2 linked regions of the Homo sapiens genome follow. The protein of the gene in region 1 purifies or fractionates together with the protein of each later gene. This does not show direct contact. Each region holds a gene or a part of one and is shown on either strand. Other genes may lie near its edges.

Evidence for each region. Proteins that work in one complex are often made in the same cells at the same time.
Region 2: the proteins of TAF8 (region 1) and MEF2A purify together in Homo sapiens (affinity purification with western blotting, with the first as the bait; one study listed by BioGRID). This does not show direct contact.

Annotation. Positions count from the first base shown.
Region 1 is NC_000006.12:42,064,024-42,067,523, reverse strand, and holds part of TAF8 (transcription initiation factor TFIID subunit 8), read right to left. Parts: intron 1,213-3,500; coding exon 1,065-1,212; intron 1-1,064. UniProt on the Homo sapiens protein: The TFIID basal transcription factor complex plays a major role in the initiation of RNA polymerase II (Pol II)-dependent transcription.
Region 2 is NC_000015.10:99,572,484-99,575,983, reverse strand, and holds part of MEF2A (myocyte-specific enhancer factor 2A), read right to left. Parts: intron 1-3,500. UniProt on the Homo sapiens protein: Transcriptional activator which binds specifically to the MEF2 element, 5'-YTA[AT](4)TAR-3', found in numerous muscle-specific genes. Also involved in the activation of numerous growth factor- and stress-induced genes.

The sequences.
Region 1 (3,500 bases):
TCTAGAATTGGCTGGGTGTGGTGGCTCATGCCTATAATCCCAGCACTTTGGGAGGCTGAGGCAGGCAGATCACTTGAGCTCAGGAGTTCAAGACCAACCTGGCCAACTGGGTGAAACCCCGTCTCTACTAAAAATACAAAAAATTAGCTGGGTGTGGTGGCTCCTGCCTGTAGTCCCAGCTACTTGCTGAAGCAGAAGAATCGCTGGAACCCGGGAGGCGGAGGTTGCAGTGAGCAGAGATTGCGCCACTGTATTCCAGGCTGGATGACAAAGCAAGACTCTGTCTCAAAAAAACCCACAAAAACTCCAGAATTATTTTTGCTGTGGGTCAGATGTGGGGTCCTGCAGTAAGAGCTAGGTTTGAATGATGTCTACTAGCCATGTTCCTTGAGGAAGTGACTTCATTTCTCTTCTCTTGTGCCTCATTGAAGGGTTCCTATGAAGGTAGTGATATATCAGTTCCCAACTCAGAGGCTCACAAGAGGATTTAATGAGATAATGTATGGGAAATGATGAGCACAGTATCTGGCACTTAACAACCGGCAGCTGCTGTTATTCCAGAGCCAGGCACACAGCGGGCGTTCCACAGGAGCTTGCTGAATGAATGAATCACCCAAACCAACCTCCCTCACTCACATTTGTAAAAACTGAGGTCTTTGGAAATGAAGTAGCTTGGTCAACATGGCCAAATAGTGCTGAGATGCCAAGTTAAATGAGGTGGGACCTACGAGGGAACATCACGATGGGCAACTGGCCCCTGATGCCAATGTTCTTCTACTACCTGGGCTGCCACCAAGTGTCTCTGATGCCTAGGCCTAGGCTACCCTCAAGGTAACTCTATGGACCTCAAGCAGCCAGTCCCAACAGAGACCATTACTGTTTTGGAGTCGTCAGTTAAGGACAGACTCTTAAGACCTGGGGAAGGGAGCCAGAAATCTGAGAGGCAAGCTGTACCCAAGGGAAGGACAAAAGCTTATTTGTTTCTTCCTACCATGCTGAGAGAAAGAAAAGATAATGTGAGTGTTTCAAATAAGACAGGGTCCACACAGTGGGGCAACTCTCACATGGAAATGTGCTGACGTCATCTTTGAAAAGACTCTGAGTCTCGCCTGTCTTGGCCATGAAACGGGTAAGTGCCCGCTCCACATCGCGCCTCTGGGATGCAGCCTTCTCCCGCAGGACCTGGTAGTCTGACACGGGCTCACGGTACGTCTACGAAGAGAGCAGCAAAGACACTGGGGTGATGCCGAAGTATCATTCTGCTTTCATCAGCTCCCTGGCTTGCTGTTGCTATGCCCTGTTCTCTAAAATGACCCAATACCAGGCCAGGCACAGTGGCTCACACCTGTAATCCCAGCACTTTGGGAGGCCAAGGCTGGTGGATCACCTGAGATCAGGAGTTTGAGACCAGCCTGGCCAACATAACGAAACCCCGTCTCTACCAAAAATACAAAAATTAGCTGGGTGTGGTGGTGGGCACCAGTAATCCCAGCTACTTGGGAGGCTGAGGCAGGAGAATCGCTTGAACCCAGGAGGCGGAGGTTGCAGTGAGCCGAGACTGCATCATTGCACTCCAGCCTGTGCAGCAGGAGCGAGACTCTGTCTCAAAAAATAAATAAATAAATAAAATTAAATTAAATGACCCAATACTATTAGTTAGAGCCAAGATCACCAAAGCACAGTAGAAAGGTGGAAAAACAATGTAACTACATTAATATTCATTTCTAATTAAAAATTAAGAAATGTACAAATATTTACTGTAGAGATTGTCTTGGAGCCTTCATTCAGCTCCCATGACAGATGGTCTCGGGTCTAAGAGACGCATCGTGAAGAAAGAGTGGGAGTGCCCCCAGGGAAGCCCTGATGGGGACCACAGGTTCCATCAGCGCAATGTGACCTCCTGCAGTATGGGAGTGGCTGCCTATGTGGACTTGTGGATTATACCATCCCATCTTATTAAATCAATCCTCACAATATGGATACATTGTTCCAAAAAGATTCCCTCAAAGAAAGAGAGGCTGAAGATCTTATTATACGTGCAAGTGACCAAGAAAACGGCAGGCTGCTACTCTTCCTCCTAATTATGAGCTTGCTGGCAATCAAGTTATGGAGTGAAAATGATTGAGATCAGAATGAGAAATGAGCCAAAACTTTTTATTTTATTATTTTTATTTTTTGGAGACAGAGTCTTGCTCTGTCACCCAGGCTGGAGTGCAGTGGCGCCATCTCAGCTCACTGCAACCTCCACCTCCTGGGTTCAAGCGATTCTCCTGCCTCAGACTCCTGAGTAGCTGGGACTACAGGCACGTGCCACCATGCCCAGCTAATTTTTGTATTTTTAGTAGAGATGGGGTTTCATCATGTTGGCCAGGCTGGTCTCGAACTCCTGACCTCAGATGATCCACCCACCTTGGCCTCCCAAAGTGCTGGGATTACAGGTGTGAGTCACCGCGCCCAGCCGGAAAACATTTTAATTGGTAATGGCAACGGTGACATTTTAACAACGACCAATAAAGTAACTACTCTTCATGATACTGAGATACCATTTTTTTTTTTTTTTTTTTTTTGAGACAGAGTCTTGCTCTGTCACCCAGGCTGGAGTGCAGTGGCGGGATCTCTGCTCACTGCAAGCTCCGCCCCCCGGGTGCATGCCATTCTCCTGCCTCAGCCTCCCGAGTAGCTGGGACTACAGACGCCTGCCACCACTCCTGGCTAATTTTTTTGTATTTTTAGTAGAGACGGGTTTCACTGTGTTTGCCAGGATGGTCTCGATCTCCTGACCTTGTGATCCACCCGCCTCAGCCTCCCAAAGTGCTGGGATTACAGGCTGAGATAGCATTTTTAAAGAAGGCACCTGGAAATGTTTCTTTGTTGTCACCATCAGTTCAAGTGTGTCACCTATACAGTTCTCACATCTGTACTTAAACAAAGAAACAGAATTTTCTGACGTGTTAAAAATCTTCCCAAAAGGCTGGGTGTGGTGGCTCACACCTGTAATCCCAGCACTTTGGGAGGCCGAGGCGGATAGATTACCTGAGGTCAGGAGTTTGAGACTAGCCTGGTCAACATGGTAACACCCGGTCTCTACTAAAAATACAAAAATTAGCCAGGCGTGGTGGTGGGCACCTGTAATCCCAACTACTTGGGGGAGGCTGAGACATGAGAATCGCTTGAACCTGGGAGACAGAGGTTGAAGTGAGCCGAGATCACACCACTGCACTCCAGCCTGGGGGACTGAGCGAGACTCTGTCCACCCCCCACAAAAAAACCCCAAAACTTCCCAATAATAAAATGAGTGGATTTTGAACATATTGTACTTGTTAAAAACATTAAAATGCAAAATCTTGTAATGATTCCTAAGACAACTTTTGGCACTCAATAAATTAGAAATTTAATAGAAAATTTTCAACCAAATTCTTTGGATAATGAGTAAATGAGGATGAAAAAAATTAGTTTTATGATTTATTAAGAGCAGCCAATGATGTTACATATGTTTGTGA
Region 2 (3,500 bases), on another chromosome or scaffold:
ACAAATGATGGGGGCATGTTAAAACAACCAATGAGTTAATGTGAAGAAGTTTCCACTAACCAAATGTGGGTTAATTTGGAACATCAAAATGAATACTGGCAGGTAATAGAAAACAACCTACTTAATAAAAAAGAATCCATTATATCATATTGATATCAAAATGAATAGGACAAGGTCTTCTTTAAAACAGACTAGAATGCCCACTAATAAATGGAGAGGGAACGATGGTTAGAAAAACACTATTTTGCAATTCTGTGTAGTAAGTGATTCAGGCAAGAGTAATCAATGAATGCTAAAACCATTCTGTAAGCGTTTGGAGGAGGAAATTTTCAGTCTCCAAGTGTCTCCAACAGATTATTCAGTAATAACAAAGGGGACTATGATACCTTTTGTAATAGAGAAAACTAGCAGGTAAAACCTTAACTAAGTGGTCCAAATAAACATCAACAACATGGTCAAAATGACACCGTACTGCCTCATGATGTGATGCACTGAGGATATACCATCACTTACATGGGATTTTTGCCAAAAATGCAAAACCTGAATCTAATTACAAAGAAGCACCTGGACAAATCCAAACTGATGGACATCCTACAAAACAAAGGGTCTGTACTCTACAAAACCCAAAAATTAAAAAGGCTGAAGAACTGTTTCAGATTAAACAATACAAGGGATATAATTAAAATGCATTGTATAATATTGGAATGGGAAAAATATTAAAGGATATTATTGACACTATGGGAAAAATTTCAACATGAACTGTACATTAAACAATAAGATCAATATTAAATTTCTTGAATCCCCCATACTAATGTAAGAATATGCCCTTATTAGGAGATATCAGTTGAAGTATTTAGGGGTAAGGGAACTTGATGTGTGCAACCTCCTCTCAAATGGTTCAACAATAAAAATAATTTTAATAGGAAGAGAACAAAAAAGAGAAAAAAAGGAGATGAGGAAAAAGATCTACACAGTGGATTCTTGATATTATATAACAATGCCTGATATGTTAATGATAATAACATGTCAGGTTTCCTTGTTAGAAATGTACACAGTGCATTAACATAGCATTTCCATCTATCCCTGTATATAACCTGAATTTAATCATACCTGTGATGTTTTGCCACTGACTTTAACTAAATAAACTTGCATCTTTGACATATTCTAGACCAGAGGTCCCCACCCCGGGGCCATAGATCAGTACCAGTCCATGGCCTGTTAGGAATGGGGCCACACAGCAAGAGATGAGCGGCATGCCAGTGAGTGAACCTTCATCTGTATTTACAGCCGCTCCCCGTCGCTTGCATTACCACCTGAGCTCCACCTCCTGTCAGATCAACGGCAACACTTAATTATCACAGAAGCACAAACCCCACTGTGAACCACACATGCAAAGGATCTAGGTTGTGCACTCCTTATGAGAATCTAATGCCTGATGAGATCATCAGTCACTGTCTCCCATCACCCCAAGATGGGACCCTCTAGTAGCAGGAAAACAAGCTCTGGGCTCCCACTGATTCTACATTATGGTGAGTTGTATAAGTATTTCATCACATATTACAATGTAATAATAATGGAAAATAAAGTGTACAATAAATGTAATGTGCTTGAATCATTTTGAAACCATCCCCTCCCCCCACCATTCATGGAAAAATTGTCTTCCACGAAACTGGTCCCTGGTGCCAAAAAGGCTGGTAATAGCTGCTCTAGGCAGAAGATGTAATCAAGGAGTTTCAATCTGTAAATAAAATAATAATCTCTGTTTCCAGACTTTGTACCCACTCTGCAAATATAAAAAGAGAGCAAGAACGACAAAGCAAATGTGGTACATGGTAACAACTGGTGAATCTGCGGCAGATATAAATGGGAGTTCATTGTACTATTCTTGTAACTTTTCTCTAGGTTTGATTTTTTTCCGAAATAAATTTAAAAAAAAAAATCTGTCAACCCTAAAACTGTACTTTGTGGAAATTAAGCCATTTCTGAAAGAAAACAAAAACAAAACCTTAACTCCTAGATTCTTCTCTCCCTTTCTCTTCGTAATCCATACCATCAATTAGGTTTAACACCATTAATAAAAAGGTTTTCAGTATCAAAATAAACATTTTGCCAAAGGAATCCCCAATTTACAAATGGGATATGTTCCAAAAGCCTATTTGTAAGTCAGCTATTTAGAATGGGGAATGACTTTCACTATTACAAATGGTGACTGGGTTCCTAATGTTGGCTACAAAAGTTCTTTGATGTATTTTCATTAGCAATACAGCTGAATTAGTAATGTATTTCATGTATACTGTGTTAATTTCCATAAGGTTCCCCCCTCAACTTGGAGCTTTTCTATAAACATATGAAATTAGTTGGATAAGCTAGAGGGAAGTAATAGGGCCAGAAGGGATGTTGGTTAGTAATGAACAACAGAGATATGCATTTCAAACTGGAAATACTTCCCTCAGACAAGATGGCTACTCAGTGCCCAGCAAGAAAGCAAAATAGAATCTGAGGAAATGCCCCTTGTGCTCCACAGCTCTCAAATTCCTGCCCTTAGAATAATGACCGTATGTTAATAGAAAACACATAAAGTAAGATTATAATTTGGAAAGTACCTTTATGATTTTTAAAGTGTGATTTGGGAAAACTGGTCTGTGGTTGGTTATTTCCGTTGATTAGGACAACTTCTTTTTTTTTTTTTTTTTTTTTGAGACGGAGTCTCGCTGTTGCCCAGGCTGGAGTGCAGTGGCGCGATCTTGGCTCACTGCAGGCTCCGCCTCCCAGGGTTCACGCCATTCTCCTGCCTCAGCCTCCCGCATAGCTGGGACTACTGGTGCCCACCACCACGCCCGGCTAATTTTTTGTATTTTTAGTAGAGATGGGGTTTCACTGTGTTAGCCAGGATGGTCTCGATCTCCTGACCTCGTGAATCGCCCGCCTCGGCCTCCCAAAGTGCTGGGATTACAGGCGTGAGCCACCGCGCCCGGCCGATTAGGACAACTTCTACTCAATTCAACATTTACTGAGAATTCACTATATCTACTATAATAGGTTGGTTGGTAGATACTGAGCACACAAAAGAGCCAGCTGGTCCTTGACATAGCAATTCAGCCTAATAGAAGACAGTGACATCAATTATATTCAAATAATCAAATAATATTCTAAATACCTAACATGGGATTTACTCTACAAATAGTGCATGTATCATGGGCTTTAGAAGCACACAAGAGCAAGAGCAAAAAACTTTTGTCTAGGAGATTAAAACTGGTATCACAGATGACATCTGAGCTAAGACTTAAAGGATAAGTAGTTCAATAACTATAACTATGTGTGCAAGACAGCATTCCAATCATTGGCAAAAAACAGGAACAAAGATACAGAAGCATCAAATATTTACTATCTTCCAAATGCCAGGCGGCATGCTAATGCCTGGGGATACAGCTAAGAGTAAGATGAACAAGGCCTCTGCCTTTATGGAGTTTACATTCAGGTAATGGACAAATACCATAAAT